Linked DNA regions of Homo sapiens: regions 1, 2, 3, 5 and 6 are each reported to be linked to region 4. Evidence: microRNA targets listed by miRTarBase, many of them from high-throughput screens and not tested one by one. Region 4 holds a microRNA gene; each other region holds the end of a gene's coding sequence. Distances are from middle to middle.
The links. The annotated mature microRNA hsa-miR-4487 reads AGAGCUGGCUGAAGGGCAG and lies in region 4 at 3,207-3,225, shown strand. An mRNA with a match to its seed (bases 2 to 7 or 8) in the 3' UTR can be bound and repressed. Matches are read on the target gene's strand: a 7mer-m8 pairs with bases 2 to 8, a 7mer-A1 pairs with bases 2 to 7 and ends in A, and an 8mer does both.

Region 1 (5,406 bases), not on the chromosome of region 4:
TAGGGGGATTTCTTTTTTTTTTTTGAGACACAGTGTCCCTTGGTAGTCCAGGCTGGAGTGCAATGTCACGATCATGGCTCACTGCAACCTCCGCAACCTGGGCTCAAGCGATCCTCCCACCTCAGCCTCTCGAGACTGCAGGCATACACCACTACCTCCAGCATTTTTTTTTCCTATTTTTTGTAGAGACGGGGTTTTGCTACACACAGGCTGGTCTTGAACTGGGCTCAAGCGATCTGCCCACTTTGGCCTCCCAAAGTGCTGGGGTTACAGGCACGGGCCACGGCACCTGGCCATAGGGAAACTTTAAACAGCCAGCGGTTCCCACACCACCGCCACGGGCAGGAGGTTGAGTGGCAATTCCTAAATAGCTGCTCTCTGCTCAGGTTAAAAGGGCACCCCCCCTCCCAATGGGCAACTTCCTTCGGGTATTTCCTAGTGGCCCCAAAGACCAAGATTGGCCCATCCCAGTTCAGAGCTTGTAACAGTTTGCCCTAAAGGGAAAATGCAAGGCTCAAGGCAGGAGGGGGAGCAGTGAGGAGCTAGAGAGTATTGAAGCCCACCTCCACAGGTGACGACAAAAGGAGAAAACACAGGGTGCTTCTAAAAGCACCGGCCCTGGCCGGGATGGCAATTCCAGTTCTGTCTGCTGCTAGCTTGCTATGTACCCTGGGCCAGTTGCTTCCTCTCTGTGGAAGTGACAGTTGTTTCATCTGCAAGTGAGGGAGGGAGGTGAGAATTTCTGAGGGCCCCTTCTACCCTTAGAACATCACAGCCAGCCTCCCTTTCTCCCACTTTGAGACAGCAGCGGTTTGGGCTTCTGCTTTCTCTTTCCTTTTAGTTTTAAATTAGCCCCCATCGCTTCTCCCGATTAAACTTTGGCCACAGAAGCAATCTCCAGTGTCATTTTGGAGAGAGCTGAGCAGGAGGGACACTCAGTGGAAGCTCCTTAAGCACCAGAACCACATTGGTTTGTATGTTTTGCACCTAGCACGTGGCATGGAACATAGGAGCCACTCATTAAGTGTAAACTGCATGCATGCATGAATGGGGTGCTCTGGTTCAGAACAGTGGCTACTCTCCTCCTCTGCTAAAACTCCAAGAAAAAAATGTGGTTTGTTCAGCTGGCACCGAGCTCTTAGTAGGACCGTTGCAAAAGGCTCCCGAATGGCACCCTGCCTTCCTACATTTGTCCTCAGAGCATAGCTAGACGCACACCTTCCCCACTCAAGAACTCCAAAGGCTTCCCCTAGGTTATCAGAGAAAATCCTGACATTTAAAGTCCTCCTTAATTGGAGACAAACTGTCACTTCTCATCTTGTCTACCTCACCTCACAAACTCTTAGGGTTTCCTTCCTGCTACCGACCAGTACCAGAATGCAACTACCTTAACTGAAAATTATGTGGAAAATGCATGCTGAGGCATTAGGGAGGCATCAGACAGCTACTGCCCGATTTTAGCTGTCCTCATTCCTGGTTTCTAGGCCTCCTCTTCTGTGTTCCCCTCAGCTCCATGGGCTCTCCTCACTTCTATTCCCTGATTCCACTCTTCTTTCCTTTCTGCCCCAAGCCCATTTCCCTCAGTATATATTTTAAGGCACTTTTCTTTTTGGGTTCAAATGCCTTTGTGATCTGCAGCTGACGGACTTCATGAAATCAAAGCCATAAAGCATCATGGGCTCCACCTTTCAGCCCCTACAACTGAGCCTGGTTCGGGGCAGGTAGTGAGACTGACTCCGAGCCAGGCACGCACCCTGCCAAGCACCTCCACGTGGTGCCTCCTTTTATTCCCACAAGGCTACAGGATAGGTGGAATTGGAATGAGGAGCCCTGTTTTACAGAGAAGGAAACCGAAGCTCCTGTGCTGACGGTCAGTTAGTTACAAAGGTCTTAATCCAAAACTCTGAACCATTTTGTTAATTTATCTTTCAGTAACAGTTCAATTAAGTTAGACAAATATCCCAAAAAGCTCTTAGCTGGCCCTCAAGGCACTTGAGTTCACAGCCCAGAAGAAAGGAAGTAAAGACACGGTAAGGTAACTTTTCTTTGTTTCAGACTCATTATGTCAGAGATTAAGAGAGAGCTCTTCAAAATTGTTGGATCCAACCCCCCACTATAAAGTTGGAGTAACTGAGGCCCAGTGAGGGCAATGGCTGGTCTGAGGTCACAAGTGAGGGAGGGACGAGACCAGACTCTCTCACCTGCCTGTTGCTGTCTTCACAGCTATGAAAACAAACACATGCGCCGCGCACGGTGGCTCACGCCTGTAATCCCAGCACTTTGGGAGGCCAAGGCGGGTGGATCACCTGAGATCAGGAGTTCGAGACCAGCCTGACCAACATGGAGAAACTCCATCTCTATTAAAAATACAAAATTAGCCAGGTGTGGTAGCACATGTCTGTAATCCCAGCTACTCGGGAAGCTGAGGCAGGAGAATCGCTTGAACCCGGGAGGCAGAGGTGGCAGTGAGCCAAATTCATGCCATTGCACTCCAGCCTGGGCAACAAGAGCGAAAGTCCATCTCAAAAAAAAAAAAAAAGAAGAAAAAGAAAAGAAAGAAAAGAAAACAAACACGCGCTAACCTGCAATAAACTAGTCTGGTCAGCCAGGGTAGGGAGAAGTGCCCTTTGGCCAGCAGCCAGCCCCATGCCATGGTCACTGGACAATCTTAGACCAAAGCCACAGACCAGAAGTAGGGCAGCGGGGGAGGGAAGGCAGAGGAACTGCAGTTGCGCCTACTTGCTTATCAGTGACCTGCATGAAGGAAACTTTCCATGCACCTCTCCAGATCAAGATCACATCGGGCACCCTTGCATAGTTCAAAAGAGGAAGTTTGGGCTTGGTTGAAATGGATGAAGAGCATACAGAAATGTCCAGACAGCGAGAGGGGATGAGGGGGAACCTGAGGCCCGGAGCAGGGCTGGGCCAGCCTTCCCAGGCTTGCTGCAAACTCAGATTCTCCTGTGCGCTTCCCGGGAAACACCTTGCAAGAATTTAAAGACGTAACTCGCTCCTGGACAGACTTTACAACCTCAAGCTCTAATGAGGAAAATCCAGGCTGCAGGCTCTAGGTAGAAGACAGAGGCCCTCACTGGAAATGTGTTTATGTGTTTGTGTATCTCTTTTTATTTCTTCCTTAGAAATAAAAAGTGTCAAGGGAATGAATCGGAGGCATACTTTAGGAAGTTAATGTTAGAAGGGAAGCCAAGATTTTTTTGTCCAACTGTCTCATTGTAGATAAGAAAATAGAGACTCAGGGAGGGAAAGGGGCTGGCCTAAGGTCAGAAACAAGTGCATGGCAGATGCAGATTTGAACCCAGGCATCCAAATTCCTGGTCCAGTACTCTAGCGCGGCCTGGATGGAGATGGGTGGTGAAATGGATGGGAAGATTTGTCAGTTTGCCCCAGCACATTTACTATCCTTCCCACCACCCCGCCCAGCACATTCAACTGGCCCCTGCCACCAACCCCCTCATTCAAAGTACAGACACTACTCATTTTACAGACAGAGGTTCAGGATGTTTTTGGATCTGACATAGCCCAAACCAGGGCAGAGGCTGTAGCAAGGGGAGGAAGCTGGGAAAGCCTGAGGGTCAGAGGGGAGTGGAGGTGGACAGGATCTATGGCTACGGTTTTTCAGCCGCTCAGCCGTGCTGGGCCCTCGATGGCCCGTGGGAGTGGGAGCGTTTCCTAAGCTCCACTGAAGATAAGAGCCCAACCCAACCCCTCCCCCCACCCCTGCCCCTTCCTTAGTCTCTGGAGCTGGAACAATCAGGCTTGGCCATGGCGGCTGGTGCTGATAACCATTTCTTGGCAGAAGTGCCCGCCAAAGCTGTGGCCCTAGTCCTCACCACCACAGAGAGCCAGCAAGGCCTTCAGGAAGTCTCCGGAGGTGTCACCCTGGCAGAGGCAGAGAGCAGAGTGAGTGAAAACAGTCCTTCCAGTCTCAATGCCCCCTCCTCCCGGCTGCCCATCTGTCTGGACATCTCCCTCGGCTTCTCTCCATGACCAACATAGGATCCCATGCCACATGTAGGCTACTGGGATCTCCCAGACACATAAATGTGACCACGTCCCTTTTGTTTATCCCCAGGAAGATATGCAAGCTCCCGGCCTGGCTTCAAGGCCCTTTGGGATCTGACCTGTGCAGAGCTCTGCAGCTTCACCTGTTCCTTTCCCCCAGGAGCATCTCAGTCCTCTCTCCACCTGTCACTCCCCTGTCCAACATGCCCCTGTGCACCCCCAATCCCATTTGCCAGCAGGGCCCTCTCCTCTGAGAAGCACTCTGGCCACTCTCTTGCGTCAGGAGGCACAGTGAACTCTGGCCTCCCTTGGTTCCCCTGGCACTCTGCTGATACCCTCCCCCATGGCCCTTGGCATATCGTGTTAGGTGATTTCTTATTTGAACAAACAACATTGAGTGCTAACTGCCAAGCCATTGCTGGGAATGGGTACAAACACCATCACGCTCACCACACATCACAGTGGTCTGGTATACGTTCAGACTGGGGAGGCCAAACTTCCTGACCCATGGTATGGTATGGATCTCCCTTCTGAGGGACTCCTATCATTGTTATGAGACATGGTTTTCGGGATTTTGTTTGTCCTTGTATTTTTTGATGTATGATTTTAAAACATAATATAGTATCAAAATGTGCCAACAATTTACTTACATTCCTACTAAGTCTGTAAGAGACTGCCTCTGAGATGCCCATAGTCTCGTTAGCCAAGTAGAACCAAGCATCAGACTTTAAGATCTTGGCTGATCTCAAAGAGCAAAAATATAAGCTCCATATGTCAAAAAAGTCAGACGCAGCCAGGTGTGGTGGCTCACACCTGTAATCCCAGCACTTTGGGAGGCCAAGGCAGGTGGATCACTTGAGGTCAGGAGCTAGCAACCAGCCTGGCCAACACAGTGAAACCCTGTCTGTACTAAAAATACAAAAATTAGCCAGGCATAGTGATGCATGCCTGCAGTCCCAGCTACTCGGGAGGCTGAGGCAGGAGAATTGCTTAAACCCAGGAGGTGGACGTTGCAGTGAGATGAGATGGCACTGCTGCACTCCAGCCTGGGCGACAGAGCAAGACTCCGTCTCAAAAACAAACAAACAAACAAAAAGTCAGACACAAAGGGTCACATATTAGGTGATTCCATTTATATGAAATATTCAGAAAAGGCAAATCTACAGAGACACAAAGTAGCTTGGTGGTTGCCTATGGCTGGGGATGGAACTAGATAAACAGGTATGAGAGAGCTTAGTGGGATGATAGAAGTGTTTGGAAACCAGCTGCATTATGGGAATGGTTGTACAACTCAGTAAATTTACTAAAAACTGTTGAATTGTACCCTTAAAACAGGTGAATTTTATGATATGTAAGTTTTTCGTTTGTTTGTTTGTCTGTTTT
Region 2 (5,406 bases), not on the chromosome of region 4:
GAACCCCATCCCCTTCTCTATGGGGCTCCCAGAGTGACAAAGGACAGTGATTAGACACGAAGTGGCTTAGCTGCTCTTGAAAGCAGACAAGATACAGAGCAGATATCCTGTAAACGATAATGCCCAGGCAGGCACTGAAAGGAGTCACCGGATACAGAGGTTCTGCAGAACTGTGGCCATCTGCCCTACACCGGGGCATGACGGAGAATGCCCTCCACCCATTCACACAGCAGGACTCTTCTCACATGATTCTGGCCTGAGGGAGAGGAAAGGACACCTGTCAATGCTGGAGTTAGAGCTTCACTGCTTCTCAGCCAATCGATTTGACTTTAAAGCTGCTGAGATGGCCCACTGCTTTTAGGTATTTAAATACTAGACAAGGAGAGTTCTAAGGACTTCACCCAAATAAGCTGTTACTTGTCCAGAATCCCAAACCAGCTGAGATGAAATGAATACTTGAGCTTCTTCAGTGAGAAAAAAGTAAATAAATACCCAGCAGTGCTCCTATGTGACCTGGTAGACAGGGAAAATCGATGGTGTCAAGGCAAAAATGGGTCAGGTTTGGAGAGTTCCCCCACTCCTTTTGAGTGTTCAGGTTTTCCTTACCATGGCTCATGCTTTCCATCAAGCACCAGAGTTGCAGTGGCTTGGCCTCTGGTTCTGGGTGAGGTTATTTGCAGGTGGAGACGGGGGGCTGCACCTGAACATTTCTAGTGTCACCCTCCCTCTCCTTCATGGGAAACAGCTCTCCAGGGAAGTACCTTCCTGCCAGGGGAAGCCAAGGCTGGGCCGGCCGCCCTACAAGGAGCCACAGGATTGCAGCCATGGGTGCCACCTTTCATGGAAGGGGAGATTTATGGGCTTTCCTGGAACCCCCAGGCTGTCCTGGCCAAGAGGAAAGAGGTGGTTACTTCAGGAGTTTGACCTTAGTTAGATAACTAAAAGAATACATTTCCCCTCCCTTTTCTTTATTTCCTCAATAAAAATGTACAAAGTATCACCCTTCTCCATGCCCCAATCTGTGTTAAAGTCACAATCTATGGGTGTAGTTCTGGGATTCTGTCAAATTCTCCTTCCTGCTCTCCAAAATGGACAATTGTCGTAGGGACCACATGCCCCCAGAATACAATGGCCTCTGTGTTCTACTGGGGTCAAGCCTGCTAGAACTCAGCATTCATGACAGGGGCTAAGTGTGCATGAAGTGACACTGACTACAGCTAGAAAGCCAGGCGCACAAATGCCCCTTCCCCCCAGGGCCGCTCTTTCCAGCGCAGTCATCCAGAAAGGCCCACGTGCAGAGCCCCTGTGTCTCAGATGCTGCTTCAGTTGCCCGTCCTGTCCTCAGAGGCCACTGTGCTGGCCCTCTATCATTTGACCTGACTTTAGAACCTGACCTCAAGGATATGGCAGCGCTAGCCTTTAGCTCCCACAGCACGGATGGGGGTGATGCCAGTTAGAAGTGGGTAGTGAACGTTTGCTGAGCTGTTCACTGTTTCTCTCTTCTCTTTGGAAGCACCTCTCCGAGCCATGTGAGCCCCCTGATGCCACCGAGCAGGGGCAGCTTCATGACCGATGTCTGGCTGAGGCTGTGGCGGACACTCTCGGGGTTGTCTGCAGGAGAGCAAGCCAGGAGGACATGGGCCTGGACGACACGGCCTCGCAGCAAAGTGTGTCAGACGAGCAGTGACGGGCGTGCGGCCGGGCGGGGAGGCTGGCTCCCCCACACCTCCCACCTGCATTGCTCTCCCTCGTGCTCCCCAAATCACCACAACCAACCAATACCGCGATCCATGAGGGACTCCTCCTGTGGAAAAGGAGAGCTGTTCCAGAACACAGAACTGATCTCAGGTTTTTGAAAAAAAAAAAAAAAAAAAAAAAAAAATCAAACAACAACAACAAAAAAACCTCACATGATGGGGAAACAAAAAAAAGCAACAAAGAAGCCACACCACACCTCCCTGGCCAGGCACAGCGCTGCCCAGAGCGGCACACCGCGGACAGCACCACACATGTTCCAGAATCTGAAATCTCAAAAGCCATTCACTAACTTAAAACAACTCAACAGAGCCATGAAACAAATGCCCTGATGAAAATAAGACAACTGCATGTTACATCATCGGCACTTTATACATTACTGTTACCATGAAAAAGAAATGAACAGCAGCACGTCTGATACCATCAGCTGGGCAGATGCATTAAGGTTAAATCTAAGTGTCAAGAAAACCCTATTTCTTTATAATATTTATGCAGCTGTTAAGCGTAACATGGTGGCAGCTTCACAACAAGAACCGTGATCATGCATGCAGTCATGTCTCCAGTATTCTGTGAAAAGCCAGGATACGTTAGGATGTGAGTTTAGAAACTGAGTCCATTCGGTGCATGGAAATCCACCGCGGAGTCACACAATGCTCCTCACTGTAGTCCAGGCGATTGGTGGGCCGCCAGCACCCTGCGGGCTTCACAGGGACGCGTGCTTGTTCTCCAAGCCCCGCAACCCTTACTGTGCACACAACATCGCACACACCTTTGTTTTTGAAATTAAAATGTTTATAGTTATTGCTGCGTCCAGTGTTTTGAGTTATACTGAAGCTTCTCATTTCTACAAGTATATCTTTTATGGTGAGAACGACATTTGGGTAAATTCTGAGACAACTTTTCCCATCTTCAAGACCCCAGGAACCTGTATCCTTGCTGGGGTAGAGGTCCCAAAATGCAGTCCATAGAGTATCACTGGCCTGGTGAACCATCCCTTTTCAAAAGACAATAGTTAGAAGGAAATACTCAATTTTAAACAGTCACACAAATTTCTTCAAAGTATTTAGGATTTGGAAATTTGAGGAGAGGGTTGGGGGAAGGGTATTGTAGAGAATCTCTTGCCCCTTGGAAAGTAAATGGTAATGCTTTTCTAATTTTTTTTTTTGTAAACTAAGAATCAGCAATTAATAAAAGCAAGTGTACTCTATAATCACAGACAGAAGGTTCTTATTTTCAGGTCAGCACTCCCTAGAGGTGCAAACTTTATTTAATTTAAATGCAGTTGTTTGTCTAATGGGAAGCTGATAGGGCCTTGCTGCAGTTCTCTAAGGTGGCCAAATTAAACTTGGCTGGCAGCTCCTGTAATCCTCTTGGGCAACTTTACAGCCAAGCCCCAAGGGCTAAATGGCAGGCCTGGAGCTGTGAGTGTGGCCTCCCCACGGAGGGTGACTCCTTGAGTTCAGTGAGGAAAACCACGGTGCCTGGCAGTGGTCAGCCAGGAGTATGACTGGCCACTCCTTAGGCATCCAGAAGTAGGAAACACAGAAAGCATTCCACAAAACGGGGAATCTCCCCAAAGAGCTAGAAACCCAGGCTGGAAGGAAATGGCAGCGCAGGCAAGAGAGCAAGAGCACCCTGGGTGCTCCTCCATCCCGTTTCTCTGGGGAGGTTCATGAGGTGCTTCTTCAACAGTTATTCTGTTCATTGCTTATCACAGTTCACGAGTTCTCGTGGCATCTTTTGTGGGGAGGAGGGAGGATGAAAGTGACACAGTGTATCTACAACACTAAGGTCACATTAATCAGATAGGAATGCAGTGACGCTCTGCACCGTCTATGAGAGCGGGCATCTCGAGTGTGCATACCGAGGCACAGATGTGCACACACATCCGCAGGCAACTGCACCCACAGAGAAAAGGTGGCAGTATTGGAGTCACCCCAGGATTCTTGGGGGCTGTTTGACCAGCCATCAACAGTGCAGCCATACTTCTTTTTCTTTTTTATCGTGGTACACAACTTTTATATTTACAACTCATGAACTTGTTAATCTGGTCCTTCATCTAGTCAGCTATGTATCAGAAAGGACTTCCTGCAAAATGTTATATTCTAAGCCCCCATTTAGAGGAGGCATCCCTAAACTGACATTTCTTGCTAGAGTTGTTCAAATATTCTGCCAGTATATAGCTAAAGAGTTATTTTCCAGTTCAAGAGTTATTTGGGGGCTGGGCACGGTGGCTCACGCCTGTAATCCCAGCACTTTTGTAGGCTGAGGCAGGCAAATCATGAGGTCAGGAGTTCGAGACCAGCTTGGCCAACATGGTGAAACCCCGTCTCTACTAAAAATACAAAAAATTAGCTGGGCGTGGTGGCGGGTGCCTGTAATCCCAGCTACTCAGGAGGTTGAGGCAGGAGAATCGCTTGAACCCAGGAGGCGGAGGTTACAGTGAGCCGAGATAGCACCACTGCACTCCAGCTCAAGCGACAGAGTGAGACTCTGTCTCAAAAAAAAAAAAAAAAAAAAGAGTTATTTGGACACAGATCAAAATGGTTTCTCCTCTAAAGATAATATTAAAACCATAGCACTTGGTTTTATATAAATCATGTGGCCAATTTGGCATTATTGATTCTAAATTTTGCAGTGTGTTGAAATCATCTGGCAAGTAATTTGTTAAAATCATGCGATGCTTCAACTTCTTTGCCCACAAAATGTGCAATGCAATGCCTGTTTACTTAGCCCACCCGTCTCCAGCCTCATCTACCATGCTGTTTTGTCCCAAGTCACTATGCTACACAAGCATCCGCCATCAGCACACACACAGGTGTGATCCACAGACACAACCTTCTATGAATACGGTAATTGGCAGGAAAAGAAGAGGAGCAGGTCTGTTCCACATTTTCCAGCCCACCAGCGTTCCCACCCCCTTGATAACTGGAGGGCTGGGAACTGAGTGCCTGAATTTGCAGCTTTACTAGGATCTCTCCCTGTCAAGGCTGATCATCAGAGATGACACTATCCATTTAAAAGACTCACCCATCTCCCTGCATGTGCTTACCCTCACTGAGAGGTAAGAAGAAACAATTTATTAAACTATTACGTGTTAAGCAGCTGGCGGTATGATCTGCTAAGGAGGAAAAGGAAAGAATGATTTAGTAAATCGTGCTTCAAATCAGTCCTGATTCCTCCCATCCGACCTTGTTATTCTAGCTGAGATTCTTCATATAAGCAATACATGTTAATTCTGTGCTTTTCAAATTGAATTCCTCCCTGAGACTCATATCCAACCATCTGTTAGATATTTTGCTTTGTTTGAATAGGAGGCATTCCAAACTCAGGTATAAGAGAATCCCTGACTTCAATCTGCCCTGCTGCCCCCACCCCACCATCCGGCAAGAGCTCCTCACCTCAGCCGTGGCACCGACAGGGAGGTGGCGCTCAGCTCTGCTCCTCTCATCCTGGCTGCGTGCAGGGAGGGGACGGTCACGTGGAGTTCTGCCACGGCACCTCTTCTTCCTTTAAATCTCAGCATGACACTGTTGCTACAGGCTGTGTGCGTTTGGCCCTGAGTTCTAGTTATCTGTGAATTCATCTTATCCTTCATTAAATGTCATTGCCTTACAATACAGGGATTGCATCTGACATCTCCATACATGC
Region 3 (5,406 bases), not on the chromosome of region 4:
TCCATGTTAACTTGCAGGATCTAAGATTTAGGGCCTGGATTCATTAGTGTAAAGTAGTCAGGAGTCCATGGAACAAAGTTGATTTTAAAAAGCACAGATGGATCGGCTCAAAATTCAGAATGAACTCTTTCCACAGTAGACACATACGTGACTTTGTACCATATCAATTTGGAGTCCAAGAGGGAAGATGTTTAAAATTGAGGCAGTGAAGGAAAACAAATACCAGAGTCTTGCTTTGTAGTTCTCTGCTTTATATTCCTGATTCTGCCCAAAAACACAGAGAAAGGATCTTTCTATGTCTCTTTGGTCCACAAAATGGCTCTTCTAATCTAATGGTAGAGGCCATTGCCCTGATTTTACTGGTAGAGTGACAAAGAACAATGTACTAAATGTTTGGTAGGGTCAGGTAGTCTTGGCTTCCTTGTTGAAATTTTCCCAGGAACACACAGTTTTTAAACGAGGTCTGGCTTTAGGCGAAAGGAATCAAAGGAGATTGGATAATGTGGTATTAGCTAATAGATTGCCTGAAATCACTGAGCATAGCTTCTGGCATAGTTAGGCACCATCATTTCATTATTATTATTTTTTTTTTAAACGTGGTGCATCACCAGCCCTCTTTCTCTGTGTTTTCGGGCAGAATCAGGAATATAAAGCAGAGAACTACAAAGCAAGACTCTTGCATTTGTTTTCCTTCACTGCCTCAATCTTAAACGTCTTCCCTCTTGGACTCCATATTGACATGGTAAAAAGTCACACATGTGTCTACTATGGAAAGAGTTCACTCCAAATTTTGAGCCGATCCATCTGTGCTTTTTAAAATCATCTTTGTTCCATGGACTCCTGATTATTTTATACAAATGAATCCAGGCCCTAACTGAATTACTAGTAACCCTGCAAGGTAAGTTGATAGGGTTGCCAATAATATGCATAAATACTACCTTAAGGGAGGTCAAAAGCATCTCTTTTGAAGGAGAGCCTAAGAGTTGGTTATATTGAATATACTTAGATCTAAATATAAGAAATATGAATCATTGAGAGACTCCAGAAATTTTTTACTGATGCCTGAATAGCTGCCTCAAGGATAAGTCCTATGCGAGAGGGGCAATTAAGTGGTTTGAACTTTGGCCTCAATTTGAGAAGTGTTGTGGCACTGGATTTAGGGTCTTCTCTGCAGAGCCCACCAGCAACCCCATGTAATGACTTGTTTAGGGAGGTGCTTCCCATGTGCTGCAATTGCATTCAGCTGCAGGAGGTTGAAGGGCCTTCAAAACAGATGCCATGCATTCGACTTTGTCACAGTTATTTTCAACAAAGAACAGAGTGAGTGAAGTAGAAATTGCTTTTGAGAGGCCAGAGAGGAATAGGAAAACCTTCCTTGGCAGTGCAATGACTAATTGTTTCCCCTTCACAGAAGAAAAGCCAAAAAATCCTCAACTGTCATATGCACAAGGAAGAGGTTTGCTGATAGAATTCTGTGTCAGGGCTGGGGAGCAAACTGGTGATGTGGCTGCAGAATCTTTCTCCTTATGGGGTTGGCAAAGGGGGGCGCTGCCTTCATTGGCAAGACAAGGCAGGCAGAAAATTGAGAGTGACCGAGCATGCCCTTGGGGTGAATTACCAGGGTCTGCTTTCTGTAATGCAGATAATTGCCTCAATTCCCTGCCTCCCTTTGAAGTTAATGAAGAGTTGGCTAAGGCCTGCTTACCTCTGGAAGGGACTCAGCTTGGTTCTGGACATGTGTTCCACTGGTGAAAATCACAGGAAATTCACAGAACACACTGACATTCTGTTTTTCAGGTTCAAGAAGAATAGCATCCCCTGCTTTGAAAGGACAACAGCTGGAGAAGTACAAGGAAGGTGCTGTTTCATGGCCAAAAACTTAGGTTGCATGGAAACATTTTTAAAAACATGTTTAAATTGCTTTTCACACCATATAAACAAGGCAATTAGAAAAATAATTAAAGGGAATATCATTGCTTCCACAGTTAATGGGGATTTTTTGATCCTCAAATGCAAGTAAACTACCTTCTAATGCTTCACATGACAGATTAAATAAATGGAAGAACCTTTTCAATTCTGATGTTTAAAAAATGAATAAATACTTGATCCTTTGTCCATATTTCCTCTTAATGGGTAGGACTCATAGAAGATGTCCTTAGACCAGTCACGCTTCATGGGGACTAGGGCATGTTGGTGAATGGTTTTTACTAAAGTTAGGCAACTTTGGCTTGATTCACCCCTAAATCTATGAATGTATATTGTGAGCCAGCAGTGGTAGAATGGAAGTCATAAGATCTCCTCAGCATTGTGATATAAATATAGCTATAGTTAGGCAATTTGAACATGTAGGCAAAACTCTCCTAATCAACACACATGTAGGCTATATGCTGGTACATGCTTTAAACATGGAGGTAACCCCACACGAGACATTCAGTGACAGGTAATATGCTGGATTTGTGCAGTACCGATTTGGCTCAGCTGGAGGAACATGTCCCGGAATTCCTCTCTCTCATGGTTCTGGATTGGAGTAGGTCATAAAGAAATTTGCATTAATTTGATCAGCAGCTATTTTATACTCATAAGGTCAGTGTACAGACCCAAGCATGGTGACAGCTTGAAAATATGACTCCAGGCCAAAAAGGGGAGCTAGAAGAGACCAGAGACAGCTCCCTGGACCCAGAGCTCTTCCAGCTCCTGCCAGCCTCCTCCTTCAGCTTTGCAAAGTACTGGCCAGGTGTGTGTGCAGCTCCATGGCAACCAGCATCAGCTTTTCCTGAGATCACACACAGCATTGCAGTGGAGGCCGTGAGACAGACATGGGTTCTGTTTGTTCTTATGGACTTCCCTTCATCCTTGCTGCATTCACAGTCGACCTACAGTGACTTCAGGCCCAGAACCAGATGCAGAGGGAACAGCCTGGCCTAGACTTCTCCACCAGCACCCACAATTGTGTAAGGCTGAAGCTCTATAATAAATCTTTATTCTGTCATTCTCTGATTCTGCCTCCCTGATCCAACCCTGACTCATATGGGTAGCTTGACGATTAATTCAGGGACTCAGTGGTATCAGAGGACCCAGGTTCATTCTTGTCGGAATCTCTTGTCGCCGTAAGAGGACTTCAGCAGTCCTGAGCATTTTCTCCCCATACGATAACCTGTCTCTTCTTAAAATGGAGAAACACTTTCCCAGAAACAGACCTCTGGAATAATTTTCCTCATACCCTAGTGAGCAGATTTCTTTATCTGCTTATGCTGAACCAGTCTAGTGGCAAGAGGACTGCAATTGTCAGGGTTGGCTCAGACAGATCAAAGTGGATGCTCTTGAAAAATCAGGGTACCATTTTGAGCAAGGTGAACCAAATTTGAGTTTTGTGGTTGGCGGAGAGGGATGCACAGCCACAGAGTGAACTAGCAGGTATGTGTGTCGGGCTGTATCCAAAGCAGTCGCTCCTTCTTACCATCGGTCTTAACGCAATGAGAAAACAACATGAAACATTTAACATGGAACTTTTCTAGGGTTTTTTTTTTTTCCTGGAATAGTAATTTTTTAAAACTTCAGTAAAAAATGTTTGGAATTATCCTTTAATAAGCCAATGTTTATATTCAGGAAACATCTCTATATCCCAAACCTTTTCTTAGAAATTTGCTGTTGTCATATTACCAATCCTGAAGTTAGGATGCTATTGTTTCTCCACACCCCAGGCACATACTCAGTAAAGTAAAACTTCAGCTTGGGGATGCATCCAGTTTTGTTATTAAGTATCATGTTCTCTCACTAGGACACAATTTTTAAAAAGGAACCAAGGCTAGGGGGAAGCAGAGATGGTAGACAAATATTATCTCAATGGAGTTTTTCTTCACAATGGAATTTTTTTAAAAGATATCTAAGTTATATTTATTTTTTTAAAAAAAATTTACTTTAAGTAAGTTCTGGGATACACGTGCAGAACATGCAGGTTTGTTACATAGGTATATGTGTGCCATGGTGGTTTGCTGTACCTATTGAACCGTCCTCTAGGTTCCCTCCCCCGCCCCCCACCCTGCAACAGGCCCTGGTGTGTGTTGTTCCCCTCCCTGTGTCCATGTGTTCTCCTTGTTCAGCTCCCACTTATGAGTGAGAACATGTGGTTTGGTTTTCTGTTCCTGTGTTAGTTTGCTGATAATGATGGCTTCCAGCTTCATCCATGTCCATGCAAAGGACATGATCTCATTCCTTTTCATGGCTGCATAGTATTCCATGGTGTTTGTATCACATTTTCTTTATCCAGTCTACCATTGATGGGTATTCGGGTTGGTTCCATGTCTTTACTATTGTAAATAGTGCAATAAACATACATGTGCATGTGTCTTTATAGTAGAATGATTTATAATCCTTTGGGTATATACCCAGTAATGGGATTGCTGGTTCAAATGGTATTTCTGTTTCTAGATCCTTGAGGAATCGCCACACAGTCTTCCACAATGGTTGAACTAATTTACATTCCCACCAAGAGTGTAAAGGCATTCCTGTTTCTCCACAGCCTTGCCAGCATCTATTGTTTGACTTTTTAATAATTAACATTCTGACTGGAATTCTTAATACTTTGCTATTTGTGATAACCCATCACAACATTGTAGCAAAAACAGAGTTAACTACATACAAGGAGAGGATTGTGAAACTGAGGTCAGATAAAATTGGACCAGGTGGCAGTTACACCACAATTCAGAATTTGCTTTCTCTTATAGAGTTGAAACCTTGATCTACTAAGTCACACAAAAGCCTGGTTATAGTGACAAGTTCACAAGCATTAACATTAGACTGTTTCTTTTATGTAAATTGATGACTAAAATTAAGGGAAACAGATTAGGTTAGCTGAGTTCTCCCTTCTCTTGCTTAAAAATTTATATGAAAATCTAAATTTATTAGAAGATTGATTAGCAATATGCCAATTGAGCCAGAAGAGTTGTTTAAATTATCTTCATGGCTAGTCACTCAACTATGCAAGCCTTGTGTGGTCAAGTGTAACCTAACTTCAGAGATTCTTATGTTCATAGTTTCATGTGCATCCATGTGAAGAGACCACCAAACAGGCTTTGTGTGAGCAATAAAGCTGTTTATTTCACCTGGGTGCAGGTGGGCTGAGTCCGAAAAGAGAGTCAGCGAAGGGTGATGGATTATCATTAGTTCTTATAGGTTTTGGGTTAGGCGGTGAAGTTAAGAGCAATGTTTTGTGGGCAGGGTGGATCTCACAAAGTACATTCTCAAGGGTGGGGAGAATTACAAAGAACCTTCTTAAGGGTGGGGAAGATTACAAAGTACCTTCTTAAGGGTGGGGGAGATTACAAAGTACATTGATCAGTTAGGGTGGGGCAGGAACAAATCACAATGGTGGAATGTCATCAGTTAAGGCTATTTTTACTTCTTTTG
Region 4 (5,406 bases):
AGGCGGAGGTTGCAGTGAGCCGATATCATGCCATTGCACTCCAGCCTAGGTAACAGGGTGACAAAGCAAGACTCCGTCTCAAAAAAAAAAAAAAAAAAAAAGTAAAAGAAAGGGGCAATGCTGAGATGAGAACTCAGTTTTCCTGTGTGCCCATCCAGTGGAAGTCCCATGCAAACCCTGAGGCAAAGCAGCATCTCTTTGGAAAAAGACTTCAAGCCTTTTAGAGTCTCACTGCTGCCTCCAGGCCCACGGCCACCACCTCTTCCCAGCTCCCCTACCCTGTCCCTATTCTCAGTTGTCCTGCTTCTCCTGGTCCAGGCTGGAGGATATCAGAGTTGAAAAAATTCCAGCCTCAGGTGCCCATGGGACCAGAGAGATGATAAAATCCAGAAAGGGGATGAGCCAGGCTCCCCTTGGCTCTCAGCCCTGGGCATGAACACGTAACAGTGGGACTTAACTCCCTGGGAGACAGGCCCAAAGAGGCAGCATTCCTGGTGGTGAGACCTGAGTGCATCTGCACCAGACATTTCCGCATTTAAATCTCAGCTCTGCAATGGAGAGACCACCCCCTGGGTAAGTGACAACATGAAAATGGGAGAAAATGCCTCTCCTGGCCTGGAGATCTCACAGGAGGGAAATGTGTTTCTAACAGCCATGGGCCCAGCCCTCCTTCAGGCACCGGCTCTGTCCAGTAGGTACGATTATTACTCCCATTTTACATACGAGGAAACCCAGGGAAAAGAGATGTCCCAAGGTCACACAGCCTTGCAGGGGCTTGAACCCCAATCCTGTCTAACTCCAAGTCCCATGCACTTACATATACCTGAGAGCCCCTCCTTCCTTTTCTCCTAGGAGTTCTTCTGTACCTTCCTAGCTTGCAGGGTTGGGGCCCTGGGTGGCAAGTTGAACCATGACTGGATGGGACTGGAGGGCTTGGCCCTGCCTGGCTGAGGCTGCAGTCTGCAAATACCTGACTGCCCTTGCTCTTGGTTGGGCTGAGGGACTGCTGCCTGGGCATGCAAGGGGTTGGGGACCAGCTGCAGCGGCACCTCCCTGACATATTGCCTTGGGCCACCCTGCCCTCTAAGCTTGTTGGTGTCTGACTTTCTTGGGAGAGGGGTATAACCCCTTCCAGGGGGCCTGCATGGTGGGGCTGAGACACTAAGAAAGCTGCATTTGAGCTTCCTCACTGGCTCAGCTCCTTCTGAGGCCCTGGAAGGGGTCTCAGCAATTTTGTTTTTGTTTTTTATTTTTTTGGTTTTTTTTTTGATGAAGTCTCACTCTATTGCCCAGGCTGGAATGCAGTGACACAATCTCGGCTCACTGCAACCTCTGCCTCCCGGGTTCAAGTAATTTTGCTGCCTCAGCCTCCCGAGTAGCTGGGACTACAGGAGAGCGCCACCACGCCTGGCTAATTATTTTATTTTATGTTTTGTATTTTTAGTAGAGACAGGATTTCACCACGTTGGCCAGGCTGGTCTCGAACTCCTGACCTCAGGTGATCCACCCACCTTGGCCTCCCAAAGTGTTGAGATTACAGGTGTGAGCCACCGCGAACGGCTGTTTTGTTTTGTTTTGTTTTGTTTTTGTTTTTTGTTTTGAGACAGAGTTTAGCTCTGTCACCCAGACTGGAGTGCAGTGGTGCGATCATCTCAGCTCACTGCAACCTCTGCCTCCCGGGTTCAACGATTCTCCTGCCTCAGTCTCCCGAGTAGCTGGGATTACAGGCGCCCACCATCACGTCCAGCTAATTTGTGTATTTTAGTAGAGACAGGGTTTCACCATGTTGGCCAGGCTGGTCTGGAACTCCTGACGTCAAGTGATCCGCCCACCTTGGCTTCCCAAGGTGCTGGGATTACAGGTGTGAGCCACTGCGCCCAGCCTCTCAGCAATTTTGTATTTGTGACTTTGTAATCTTTTCCTTAAAGAGTGCCCCCCCAAATGGTTTTAAGCTTCAGGCTCCTGGGAACCTAGATCTGTCCCCAGGGTGGGGCGGTGGAAAGCGTTCCAACCCCCTCCCACTTGCTTTTTGCATGCTGGCTCTGGGGCTTTGGGTGAAACTCCCCACTTTGCCATCTATACAATGGGGATGAATGAGGCGATGCGATGCTTAGAGGACCCTCTGTTCAAAACTCGCCCAACCCACAGAGACCTTCACAAGCCTGCACTTGGTCCATCACCAACAGCCCTGTGGGGAAAACCGAGCTCCTACCCCCATTTTCCAGCTGAGATAACTGAGGCGTGAAGCCCCGCTGCCGCTCGTCGCTGAGGCTGTGAGCAGGCTGGAGCCTCATCCCCCACTGCTCCCTGGGGTCTCCTCCCGGGATGCCAAGCCTGGGTAGCAGGAGGGGGTCTCCAGGGTGCGGGGGCGCTCTGGGGAGGCCGGGGGCGGAGGCGGTGTCCCGCACTGTCCCACCGCAGGGCCGACCTCGGCCCTTATCTGCTCCGGCAGCTTCCGCCCCCCAACTCCAGCCCCCGCCGCAGGCCCGGCCCCCGGCCCCGCCCCCCTAGGGCCCCTCCCCCGCGCCGCCCGCCCCCAGGGGAGCGCCCGAGCTGCCCGGCTGCGGCCCAGTCGAGCGGAGAGGGGGCCCAGCCCCCCCAGGTGGGCAGCCGGAAGTGATAAATAACCGAGACGGGGGGGGGGGGACACCATTGCAGTGAGGCCCGAGTTGTCCCGGGATACTCGCCCACAACCCAATAGGAGCTCCCCAAACTAAGTTGTCTTCGCCAAAAATGGGAGGGGGTCTGAGAAGGAAGAGGAAAGGGGTTCCTTAAGGCCCCAGGGACAAGAGGAACAGTGGAGTCAGTTTAAACAGGGCTCTGAGAGGCACACGACCTCCCCCCACACTAACAATGCCAAGTGGCCTCCCTGGGACAGGTGTGGGGGGGGGAGAGAGAAGCGGAGACACCTCAGAGAAAGTGAAAAGGAAGTCACAACTGGAGATGCCTGCGGAGTGCAGCGGGGCATAGCCTCAAAAATACATAAGGAACTCTTGCAAATCAAGGAAAAGAAAATCAAGCAATCCAATATAAAAAAATAGATAACACACACGCAGCGCAGGCATGTTAGGGCAGAGAAAACGAATTTGCTCAAATACCATCTAAGGGAGGCTCAGCCTCACTGCTGATGAGGGCGATGCAAATTCAGACCACAATGAGATGCTATTTACACCATCTGAAGGGCAGAAGGGAACTGTCCTTCAGCCAGAGCTGGCTGAAGGGCAGAAGGGAACTGTCCTTCAGCCAGAGCTGGCTGAAGGGCAGAAGGGAACTGTCCTTCAGCCAGAGCTGGCAAGGAGGGGAGCAGCAGGCCCTCCTGCATGTGGCTAGTCAGGATGCGGCTCCAAATAGCCCCCTAGGGAGAGCAATCTGGCCTTATCTCACGAAGTGGAGGTACAGAGGCTGTCACCCACACATCCCCCCAGGCAGCAAATCAAGATAAGTTCTCTGACAAGTGCGCCAAGAGACAGGGACAAAAATATTCACGTTGTCCCTAATAGCAAAAAAAATCCTGAAATAACCCCAGGGCCCACTGATAAGAGAATGGATAAATAAATTACAGTAGACACATTCACAGGGTGGAGATCATTCAGCAATGCAAGCAGGTGACCCACAGGTTCACCAATATCATGAAGGAATCTTTGCACCATGGTATTGAGTGGAAAAAGTCAGTCCCAGAAGATGGATACTTGCGGCTCTCTGTATCCCTGGGTTCCACATCCATGGATTCAACCAACCTCGGATGGAAAATATTTGGAGAAAAAAATGGATGGTTGTGTCTGTACTAAACATGTACAGACTTTTTTTCTTGTCATTGTTCCCCAAACAATACCATGTAACAGCGATTAACATAGCATTTACATTGTTTTCGGCAATCTAGAGATGATTTAAAGTATATGGGAGGATGTGGTAGGCTAAATATGCAAATATTTAATACCACACCATTTTATATCAGGGATTGAGCATCTGTGGATTTTGGTATCCTCAGGGGGTCTTGGAACCAACTCCCCCCCATCCCCGCCAGGACGCCAAAGGACAGCTGTCCTTACCCTTCTCATGAAGTTCAAAACCAAGCCAAGCCATATCTTTACAAATAACAATGTTCCTTCCCTGTTTCTAATACCTTTGTTATTAGGAGATGGTATGATTACCCACATAAAAGACTCTAGGCTGGGCATGGTAGCCCAAGCCTGTGTCCCTAGCACTTTGGGAGGCCAGGAGTTCAAGACCAGCCTGGGCAACATGGCAAAACCCCATCTCTACAAAAAATACCAAAAAAAAATTAGCCGAGCATGGTGGTTTGTGCCTGTGGTCCCAGCTACTTGGGAGGCTGAAGTGGGAGGATCATTTGAGCCCAGAAGGCCGAGGTTGTGGTCAGCGGAGATTGTGCTATACTCCAGCATGGGCAACGGAGTGAGACTCTGTCTCAAAAAAAAAAAAAAAAAAAAAAAAAAAAAAATATATATATATATATATATATATATATATCCCCACAAATATAAAATATCTAGAAGTAAACTTGGTAATAATTATGCAGAACCTATAGGAAAACAATTGTTAAATTCACTAAATAATGTAAAACCTTAAAATAGTTTTTTTTTTAAAAAAGCCAATTCAAATGGAATATTGTCTAGGTATACATACATATGTCAGAAAAAGCTTTATCAAAAAAATAAAAGCAAGAGTCAGGTGTGGTGGTGTGTGCCTGTAGTCCTAGCTTCTTGGGAGACTGGGGCCAGAGGACCATGTGAGCCCGGAAGCTTGAGACCAGCCTGGGCAACAATTTTAAAAAAATTTTAAAATTAAAATTAAAATCTCTAATTTTAAAAAAAGAAAGGCCAGGCGTGGTGGCTCACACCTGTAATCCCAGCACTTTGGGAGGCCGAGACCAGCGAATCACTTGAGGTCAGGAGTTCAAGACCAGCCTGGCCAACATGGTGAAACCCTGTTTCTACTAAAAACACAAAAATTAGCTGGGCATGGTGGGCGCCTATAGTCCCAGCTTCTCGGGAGGCTGAGGCAGGAGAATCGCTTGAACCTGGGAGGCAGGGGTTGTAGTGAGCTGAGATTGCGCCACTGCTCTGCAGCCTGGGTGACAGAGCTAGAATCTGTCTCAAAAAGAAAAAAAGAAAGAAAGAAAAATAAAAAGCAAAGGACTGATCATCACAAAATTCAGGTTTCACTGAAGGAGGAGACAGGGAGATGGGATAGGGGAAGGGTAACAAGTAAGGAAAGATGTAAATCAACACAAAAATTAAACAAGAGCCTTGCAGGGACCAAAAGGGCAGTGCAGAACGCACAAGGATTTCACCCCAATTTGTGCACCTGAGACAAGAGAAGGGGAATGGGAGACATGAAATTGATTTGGATAAACTTTTATTCAGAGTATGGGCAAAAGCTTGCTTT
Region 5 (3,000 bases), not on the chromosome of region 4:
TCCCAGGCCCCAGGGAGGGGCAGGGGCCCCATCCTGCAGATGCTACAGACACTAAGGCTTCCAGCAGACCTGGCACACTGTGTTCAGCTCTGCAGATGACAAGGCAAGGTCCTCAGCCTGCAGCACTTGGGGAGGCCCAGCCTCCCAGTCTGGGGAAGGTAAGGCTTTGGGGTTCGTTCTTTCCATGTCAGACTTTCAGGATCCAAGACCCTTCTGGCTTACCGTGCCAGATCTTCTCTTTTTTTCTTCCCACTACAGGATGCTCGCTCTATGGCAGCAGCTGCTGCATCCCTCGGGGGACCCCGAGCAAACACAGTCCTGGAGCGTGTGGAAGGTGCCCAGCAGCGGTGGAAGCTGCAGGTGCAGGAGCAGCGGAAGACAGTCTTCGATCGGCACAAGATGCTCAGCTAGATGGGCTGGTGTGGTTGGGTCAAGGCCCCAACACCATGGCTGCCAGCTTCCAGGCTGGACAAAGCAGGGGGCTACTTCTCCCTTCCCTCGGTTCCAGTCTTCCCTTTAAAAGCCTGTGGCATTTTTCCTCCTTCTCCCTAACTTTAGAAATGTTGTACTTGGCTATTTTGATTAGGGAAGAGGGATGTGGTCTCTGATCTCTGTTGTCTTCTTGGGTCTTTGGGGTTGAAGGGAGGGGGAAGGCAGGCCAGAAGGGAATGGAGACATTCGAGGCGGCCTCAGGAGTGGATGCGATCTGTCTCTCCTGGCTCCACTCTTGCCGCCTTCCAGCTCTGAGTCTTGGGAATGTTGTTACCCTTGGAAGATAAAGCTGGGTCTTCAGGAACTCAGTGTCTGGGAGGAAAGCATGGCCCAGCATTCAGCATGTGTTCCTTTCTGCAGTGGTTCTTATCACCACCTCCCTCCCAGCCCCAGCGCCTCAGCCCCAGCCCCAGCTCCAGCCCTGAGGACAGCTCTGATGGGAGAGCTGGGCCCCCTGAGCCCACTGGGTCTTCAGGGTGCACTGGAAGCTGGTGTTCGCTGTCCCCTGTGCACTTCTCGCACTGGGGCATGGAGTGCCCATGCATACTCTGCTGCCGGTCCCCTCACCTGCACTTGAGGGGTCTGGGCAGTCCCTCCTCTCCCCAGTGTCCACAGTCACTGAGCCAGACGGTCGGTTGGAACATGAGACTCGAGGCTGAGCGTGGATCTGAACACCACAGCCCCTGTACTTGGGTTGCCTCTTGTCCCTGAACTTCGTTGTACCAGTGCATGGAGAGAAAATTTTGTCCTCTTGTCTTAGAGTTGTGTGTAAATCAAGGAAGCCATCATTAAATTGTTTTATTTCTCTCACTTTCTGGTTTTTAAGAGATTTAGGGAACTAGGAATTTTTCACAAGTGACCTGGTAAATGTAGTATCCCAGAGGGGACAGAGAGCATTGCGTTTTGCTAGGTCCAGACAGGCAGAGCCTTGGGAAGTCCAGGCGGCCGTGGCAGAGCCAGCCACAGTGCAATCAGGCCAAGGCCACGGCTTGCTGGAAGTCCTCCTCACCTGATTAGGAAAGAGGTGGGTAGGCTGGGGCAAGGAGCACAGGGTGAACTGGCCCTTGGGAGTTATCCTGAGATTTTACTTCATGTTTATGGGCAGTTCCTCTGAAACTGAACAGTGCGTGATTCATCCTAATATCCTACAGACACAGTAAATAGCGCTCCCTGCAAAACCTGTAAGTATCCCCAAATGAAAACCAACAGGTATTTGGAGAGGGGTGGGTGGGGGCAGCTAGAAAACGAGCTGCCCCATACAGAAGGAAATGCCAGCAGCTTCAACAGGGACATCCAGGGGAGCCCGGCACTGCGTCAGCTCCAGTATGGATGTGCGGTGCAGGGCATGTCCAAGACCCAGGCAGAGGCAAGGCATCTAGAGGGACTGAGCTGATCTGGTGTCATCAGGGTTGTCCAAATAAACATGGATTAAGAACCTTTGTGGGCTGGGCGCGGTGGCTCACGCCTGTAATCCCAGCACATTGGGAGGCCGAGGCGGGCGGATCATGAGGTCAGGAGATCAAGACCATCCTGGCTAACACGGTGAAACCCCATCTCTACTAAAAAAAATACAAAAAATTTGCTGGGCATGGTGGCGAGCACCTGTAGTCCCAGCTACTCGGGAGGCTGAGGCAGGAGAATGGCATGAACCCGGCAGGCGGAGCTTGCAGTGAGCTGAGATCGCGCCACTGCACTCCAGCCTGGGGAACAAAGCAAGACTCCGTCTCAAAACAAAACAAAACAAACAAAAAAAAACCTTTGTGTGGGCCCCCATGCTGGGTTCTTGGAGAGGTGTGGGAGGCAAGAGAACGACGTGAGATGGGGGGTCAGTTTGCAACAGTTTGCCAAAGTTCCAAGACAGAAGCGTAAAGGGGATGGGACTGGGGTGACCTGCAGATGGGGCTCCCAGGAGGAGCAGAGACTCTGGTTGGCATTGGAAACAAGGGACACAGCTGAGAGGGGACCAAGTGGATTGTGGGGTCCTGAGCAAGTGCACTTAGGAAGTTTGTGGTAGGGCTAGCAAGCGATAGATGTGCCCCCAAATGCAAGGCTGGGACAGAGGAGTTGGTGCTGACAACATTTCTACTGGGTCATTTACTAGACAGCTGCTCAGTGCCTACCAGGGTCAAGTACTGCTGTGGAAGCTACAGTGGGCTATTTTATTCTTTCAGGATGGGGATGCTCTTATTTCAAGAGGCATACAAAAGCAGCACTTTCCAAAGGTGGGCAGGTGGGTGTATTAACTTAGCAAGAATAACCAGGCCAGAAATTGGTGCCTAACATTGCCAGGTCTCCCCTGTAAAACCACATGCCCTGGGGGAAACATTGAGTGCTATATTTCTCTGAGGCTTGGGTAAGTCCTGCAGATGATCCAAACTGGCTTTGGTGGTTTTTGGGACAACTGTTGTTAACTATAAATAAGCCGAACTATAAGTCCAGTATATGAACATTTATAAAAGATTAGGAGTGACTGTTCACTTTACTAAGGATTCAACTAGTAACCAAACG
Region 6 (5,406 bases), 87 Mb from region 4:
AAAATAGGAAGAAACAGATTCCAGCCACGCAGTCTTCAGCCCTGGAGATTCAGATCGTGGGCAGTGCCAAAGATGCTGGAGGCTCCGTGAAATCTGTTTCTCCCTAGAAGCTACTGTTTCGTCAACCTTGTCCCCCACCCCAAATAAAATCAGAAAATTTCACATTTGAACCTTACCCCAGTTTCCTCAGCACAAAAAGGGCAGAGGAATAAATTAAATCAGTTCAACCCCAAATATTTTAGATCACAAATCAAAAATAAAGACAGAGAGCATGGAAAAATAACAAGAAATACTCGGCTCAATCCACCCGGCTTCAGTCTTCCCCCAAGCGCATGGTTGTGGGACTAAGCACCTCAAAGGAGGGCACAGACCCCGCCAGCCTGCTGGGAAAAAGGCGTCCTTCCTGCTAAGAAAGTAGGATCTCAAAAGGCCTGTCCTACCCCCAGTCTCTCCAGGGAAGCTGCTTAGAGGCAGACTGGCAGCAGGCAGGGCCACTCCCAGATGCTGGGCCCAGAGCCACCCCAACAATCCAGCACAGGACCCCGCTCAGCACCAGGGAGCCCACGGCAGCCCACCAGCAAATCAAGACAGGCTTCGCCTCTCTGCCTCGTCGTACATCTTCTCTCCCCACGCAAATGCAGTTGTCCAGGCCCCGCTAAGAACCGTTTTCCCCTCTTCCTGGTCTGTGGGTCACCTGACACTACAACAGCCACAGTTCTCAGCCATGATGCTGAAGAGGCAGACAGACATCTGAGACACAGAAGCAGGTTTACATCTGAGTCGTGTCTACTGCAAGGCCGCCAGACCGTAAAAGGGGAAGTTTGGAAGGCGTGATCTCCTACAGAGTGAGTGCCGAAGTCCTAAGAAGCTGATCAGTAGTCACTGCCATTGTTCAAAGGCAGACTATGAAGGACACTGGTCCCTAGAGGTGGTTACACCCCCATCACCCACATGCTCACAACCACGCTGTCACACATGCCCACACCCAGCACCTAAACTTGTGCCTGTGACATCTTCACCCTCTATCCACGGAGGGAACTGCGTTCCACCAATCCCATCGCCGTCCACGGGCTGCAGGAGGGCTGCTGGCCTCCGAGGACACTGTCACAGGAGGAAGCCCTCAGGGGAGCTGAATGAGTGGCAGGCCACTGAGAGATGGGCAGACCTGACGTCCTTGCCCTAGCCAGGGAAGCCACAGCACAGCAGCCACTCGGTGACCAGCGAAAAGCACGGCTCCCCGCGTTGGGTCTACGTGCTGAGGTCATGGGCACTGCCAGAGGAAGCGGAGGAGGAGTCAGCACCTGGGTTAGCACGGGGGTGCCCTGGAAGGCACAGCCATGGCCTGAGCATCTCAGCCTCTCATGACATCCGAAAGAAGCAAAGCCTTCTACCTCATCATCTCCTCTTCTTTTCTAACCTGAGGGCTGGAATTCCCAGGAGGGTGCTCAGAAAAGTAGGCCAAATTCATCCTGAAGGCTGACAGCCTGATGCCCACATCCCAGTGCATCCCAGGGCCTGGCTGAGCCCCGTGAGCTCCTCTGGGGTAGAAATCTCACACTGCCAGTGCATAAAGGCTGCACGTCAGCTTGCGGTAAGCCCCCACCTCCCACCCCAACACCTCAGGTAAGCCGGCTCCCGTCATCCCCCAGGAGAGACGCCCAAGTGAGCAGCACATCACGACGCGGGGGCAGAGGGTGTGCTACCTGGAAAAAAGAACACAAAGAGTTGTGTGCTCTTCCATCTCGCAGAGCTGGTGCCCAGTGGTCAAGTGGATTCCAACGCCCCAGAGAAGCACATCAACTGGAAGGCCCAGGTTCCACCCCAAGGGTGCACGGCCCAGTCTCAGAAGCCCCTGCGTGCCTCTCTCACCATGACCCCTTCAGATGTGTTCAGAAAGGAACTGCGGTGGTGTTACTTGCACGGTAAACCTCAAGGGTGGAGCTGGTCCTCAGCTCCCTGGGTGAAAGGAAGGACCAGGGCCGGTGTGGCACAGAAGAAGTCCATCCCCTAAGATGGAAACGCCAAGAAGAGACAGCAGCCATCCAAGGCCTCATCCTGCGAGGTCACTGGGCCAAGCCCATGGCAGCTGCATGAGACCAGCAGAAGCCATCCAATGCTGCCGTGGCTCACGTCCAAGCAGGGAACTCGGGAGAGGTGGGTGCCCCCAAACCCACCAAGACAGCAGCACCAAGAAGGAAATACTTCAAGGAACCTTCATTCTAAGCCAAGCCAGAAGGGGGGCTCCTACACAAGAGTGGGGGAGGGGCAGATCTCCCCTCCACCCCGCCCTCGGGGCCTTCTGCCCTGCCCTTGGGCAGCACCATATCTTACCGGCAGAGAGACATCTTAGTGGGAAGATGATCTCAGGAAGCTTCTGGATGCTACGAGTTTGAACCAGGACCAGACTTTGGCAGAGGAAGAGTCAGTGCCCAGACCCTACTCACCACCCCTCCCGCCTTCATTCCTACGCCTCAGCCACAGAATAGAACTGGGCAAAGAGGGCAGGATCCAGAGCGTCCCAGGCCCCAGCAGCCAGAGGCGCCCTAGCTTCACCTGAGCTCATCCCCCTGCAGCTCAGGTCCACCGGAGGACGAAGGCCCCGGGGCAGAGAAGAGTCGGCAGGCAGCACGTGGTGAGTGCGGGAAAGCCACAGGCGGCTCCGCACAAGTGGTAATTAATCAATCTGGAGAATTAGCTCCCACAAAAGCAAAGGAGGATCCAATCAGCCGCTGTGGAACAGCACTGCACAGAGTGCTGAGCCGGGGACGGTATAAATAGAGCCGGCAGCTTGGCGCTAGCACAGGTGGCTCCGCAGTGGGGAGACTTTGGCCACAGAGCTCACGGCCTGGCTGGGCGGAAGGGCGCCGACGGATGCGCTGGACATGTGCACCAGAGGCTTGCTTTAGCCCCGCGGCTGAGTTAGCCTCTACTCCTGCAGCGTGAGCCACGCTGGAAGGAAGAAAGATGCAGGTCTAGGAGCCTGGCCACCCCTTCTTCACCCAGGAACCAAGAAACAAAGGCTTGAATTTAGTTCTGCAGTAACTCATTACTGAACCCCCATAGAAGGCAGCCGGTAATCACAGCAAGGCCCCATTTCTGCTCTGGGTGGGAGAAGGTAGGAGACACACGGAGAATTCAGCTGAGAGACACGGATCTTGTTTTGGGAGAAAGAATCCCCCAAGACAGATGTCAGGCACCTGGCCAACGTGCAGCCAGCCCTGCTCGCAAACCCCAGCTGGCCACTGCCCTCCTCCTCCTGCCTCCACTGACCACAGAGAGCAACAGCACTTTGCCTCAATGTACATATATATATATATATATACACACATAGAGAAACCCACACACTACAGACATATGCATCTGTATCTATATCTATATATATGTGGGGTGTGGAAGATGGACATTAAGTCCAGCCTTCTTCCAGGACTTGAAAAACTGAAACAGAAGCAGAGAGCAGTAAAAGCCATTGCTTTCCTCTTCACTTCCAAAGACATTGGAAGAGATGAGAAAAATCAACCTAGTGAAGCAGGGGGCGGAGGGGAGGAGACAGGTGTTGCCCAGTCTCCAATCCACTTCCTGACCTCGACCCACAGGTGGAAGGTGTGCCCACCCTCCGTCCTGAAGACAGGCGGCCAGGATCTGGAGGGAGACACCCGCTCTGGCAAAAGAGGGGGCATGCAGGACAAAGGTCTGGGCCGCCCTTGGCAGACGGAGGAGGACACACCCCCACACAGTGGCCCTCCCTGCCTGAGCCCAGCAACCTCGCCCCGGGGACACCTAGAGTGGGGTGGAGTCACAGCAAAGTGGCATGTCCTGGGTCATCGTGGTCCACACTGTTGAGAATCGCTGTCTGGTCTTCCGGAAGCTGGCGGTGGCACAAGTCTGAGAGCCGGGCAAAGGGGTCAGGACGAGAATGTCTCTTCTTCTTTCGGAGGCAGACAGCTTCATCGGGCCACAGAACCTGAGAGTTGGGAAGCTGCTGAGTCTGGGAGGCAGAATCGTCTAGGAAGAAAGGAAGAGGGACGCAAAAGAGAAGCAAGCGGATGAAAAGGAAGCACGCAGCCTGCTCACCTTTTCCACCTGCATTTGTTCCGGGTTTCTAATGTTGAAACAAAGGAATCACCTGAGTCTAGAGAGACCAGACCGAATTGCTGCAGAGAAACCACCTTCTTTTCCGCCAAGACAACCAGCAACCTGACCCTGCTCCTTTCACTTGAATAAGAGTTAAGAAAGTGGAATGGAGAGGATTTTCCTTCTCATTCATTTCTTTCTCGATCAGTCTACAAATATTTCTTTTAGTGCCTCTTGAGTACTAGGCATCATTCTAGGGACTGGGGATCAGGAAGGAACAGGCTGGGACTCAGGACATCTTTCTCATCTGCCCCAAGCAATGACCGACTTTATACAAGATTTTAATCGCATGCAACGGTCAGGCCTTGACCCTTCCTGGACTGCCTGGGCCTCTCCTCTGCCTCATGGCCCTTCTGGAGATTAATCAGGAATGCCTTTGCTAGCTTCAAAGACTATGCATCCATGTGAGGGTGCAGAGGAAGAGACAAACTGTCAAGACTTTAAAAACACAGAAATAAAATTTGCAGTTACTGAAAATACTACAAAGATAAAATAGGGTCAACTGAGGCACTACTCCGCTCCTTAAAGGGTTAACACTTGAATTGCATCTTAAATTATGAGCCTTCCACAGATCTGAAGAAAAATTATTCCCAACAGAAGAAATGGCATGTGTGCAAGCCCCAAGTTAAGGGTAAATGTGGTGTGTCCCCGATACAGAAGGGAGGTCATCTCAGTTGGAAAAGAGTGAGGCAAGAAAGACAGGCAGGGCATCTAGGAGCTTGAAATCTGTTCTGGTTACGATGGGAATCTGGTTACGATGGGGAGGTTTTAATCAGAAGTGTGTGTGTGTTTGTGTATGTGCACACACGCCTGCACGTGTGTGTTCGTAACTGAAAGAGAGGATGCCGCTACGTGTCCTGCAGTTCGCCGTGGTGGCTGTGTGTGGAGTCCACGGTGCAAGGTACAAGGATAGGGCTGGAACACCAGCCACGAGGTACTGCAATAGTCAAGGTGGGACAGACAGTGACTCAGAACACAGAGTTAGCAATAGAGACAACAGAAAGTGGCCAGATTCAGGATATGTTGCAAAGGCTGAGCTAACAGGCATTACCTAGCGGGCTCGACGTAAGATGTGAAGGCAAGGGAAGAATCTGGGAATTAAGGGGCCTGACACCCCAGTGGGTACCAGTGCTAGTGATTAAACCGAGGAAGAGCTGAGGAGAAGCAGACCTGGAGAGGCTGATCAATAACTCTGCTTTAGACATCGTAAAGGCGTATGAAACACCCAAGTGCACGTTCAGCTGGCAACTGGAAATATCAGCCATGACCTCAGGG

Region 1: the mRNA of ANXA6 is a reported target of hsa-miR-4487. Seed matches in the 3' UTR shown: 7mer-m8 at 3,760-3,766.
Region 2: the mRNA of PCNX2 is a reported target of hsa-miR-4487. The part of its 3' UTR that is shown has no 7-base or 8-base seed match.
Region 3: the mRNA of MYH15 is a reported target of hsa-miR-4487. Seed matches in the 3' UTR shown: 7mer-m8 at 2,688-2,694.
Region 5: miRTarBase lists TMEM9 as a target of hsa-miR-4487. Seed matches in the 3' UTR shown: 7mer-m8 at 738-744 and 7mer-m8 at 902-908.
Region 6: the mRNA of IGSF9B is a reported target of hsa-miR-4487. Seed matches in the 3' UTR shown: 7mer-m8 at 1,939-1,945 and 7mer-m8 at 1,748-1,754.

The regions. Positions count from the first base shown.
Region 1 is chr5:151,097,608-151,103,013 of GRCh38, forward strand. It overlaps ANXA6 (annexin A6), which reads right to left. Exons shown (of 26, transcript NM_001155.5): 26 at 3,099-3,900. The coding sequence ends at 3,841. Among named protein-coding and RNA genes, the nearest start is that of TNIP1, 19 kb to the left of the region's middle. RefSeq lists enhancers at 799-908, 1,099-1,148.
Region 2 is chr1:232,980,585-232,985,990 of GRCh38, reverse strand. It overlaps PCNX2 (pecanex 2), which reads left to right. Exons shown (of 34, transcript NM_014801.4): 34 at 1,514-2,556. The coding sequence ends at 1,687. It overlaps NTPCR (nucleoside-triphosphatase, cancer-related), which reads right to left. Exons shown (of 5, transcript NM_032324.3): 5 at 2,109-5,406. Among named protein-coding and RNA genes, the nearest start is that of NTPCR, 33 kb to the right of the region's middle.
Region 3 is chr3:108,377,951-108,383,356 of GRCh38, reverse strand. MYH15 (myosin heavy chain 15) reads left to right here. Exons shown (of 41, transcript NM_014981.3): 41 at 1,798-2,989. The coding sequence ends at 1,812. It overlaps LOC124900545 (a long non-coding RNA gene), which reads right to left and starts at 1,817. Exons shown (of 2, transcript XR_007095998.1): 1 at 1,706-1,817. It overlaps HHLA2 (HHLA2 member of B7 family), which reads right to left. Exons shown (of 10, transcript NM_001282556.2): 10 at 5,072-5,406. RefSeq lists an enhancer at 5,369-5,406.
Region 4 is chr11:47,397,778-47,403,183 of GRCh38, forward strand. MIR4487 (microRNA 4487) reads left to right here and starts at 3,193; the gene lies at 3,193-3,265. The region is part of intron 2 of SLC39A13-AS1 (SLC39A13 antisense RNA 1); the gene reads right to left. RefSeq lists a silencer at 2,252-2,611 and an enhancer at 2,661-3,661.
Region 5 is chr1:201,133,074-201,136,073 of GRCh38, reverse strand. It overlaps TMEM9 (transmembrane protein 9), which reads left to right. Exons shown (of 5, transcript NM_001288565.2): 5 at 259-1,302. The coding sequence ends at 411. Among named protein-coding and RNA genes, the nearest start is that of ASCL5, 7.4 kb to the right of the region's middle. RefSeq lists a silencer at 1,321-1,527.
Region 6 is chr11:133,905,276-133,910,681 of GRCh38, forward strand. It overlaps IGSF9B (immunoglobulin superfamily member 9B), which reads right to left. Exons shown (of 20, transcript NM_001277285.4): 20 at 1-4,002. The coding sequence ends at 3,794. Among named protein-coding and RNA genes, the nearest start is that of MIR4697, 9.4 kb to the left of the region's middle.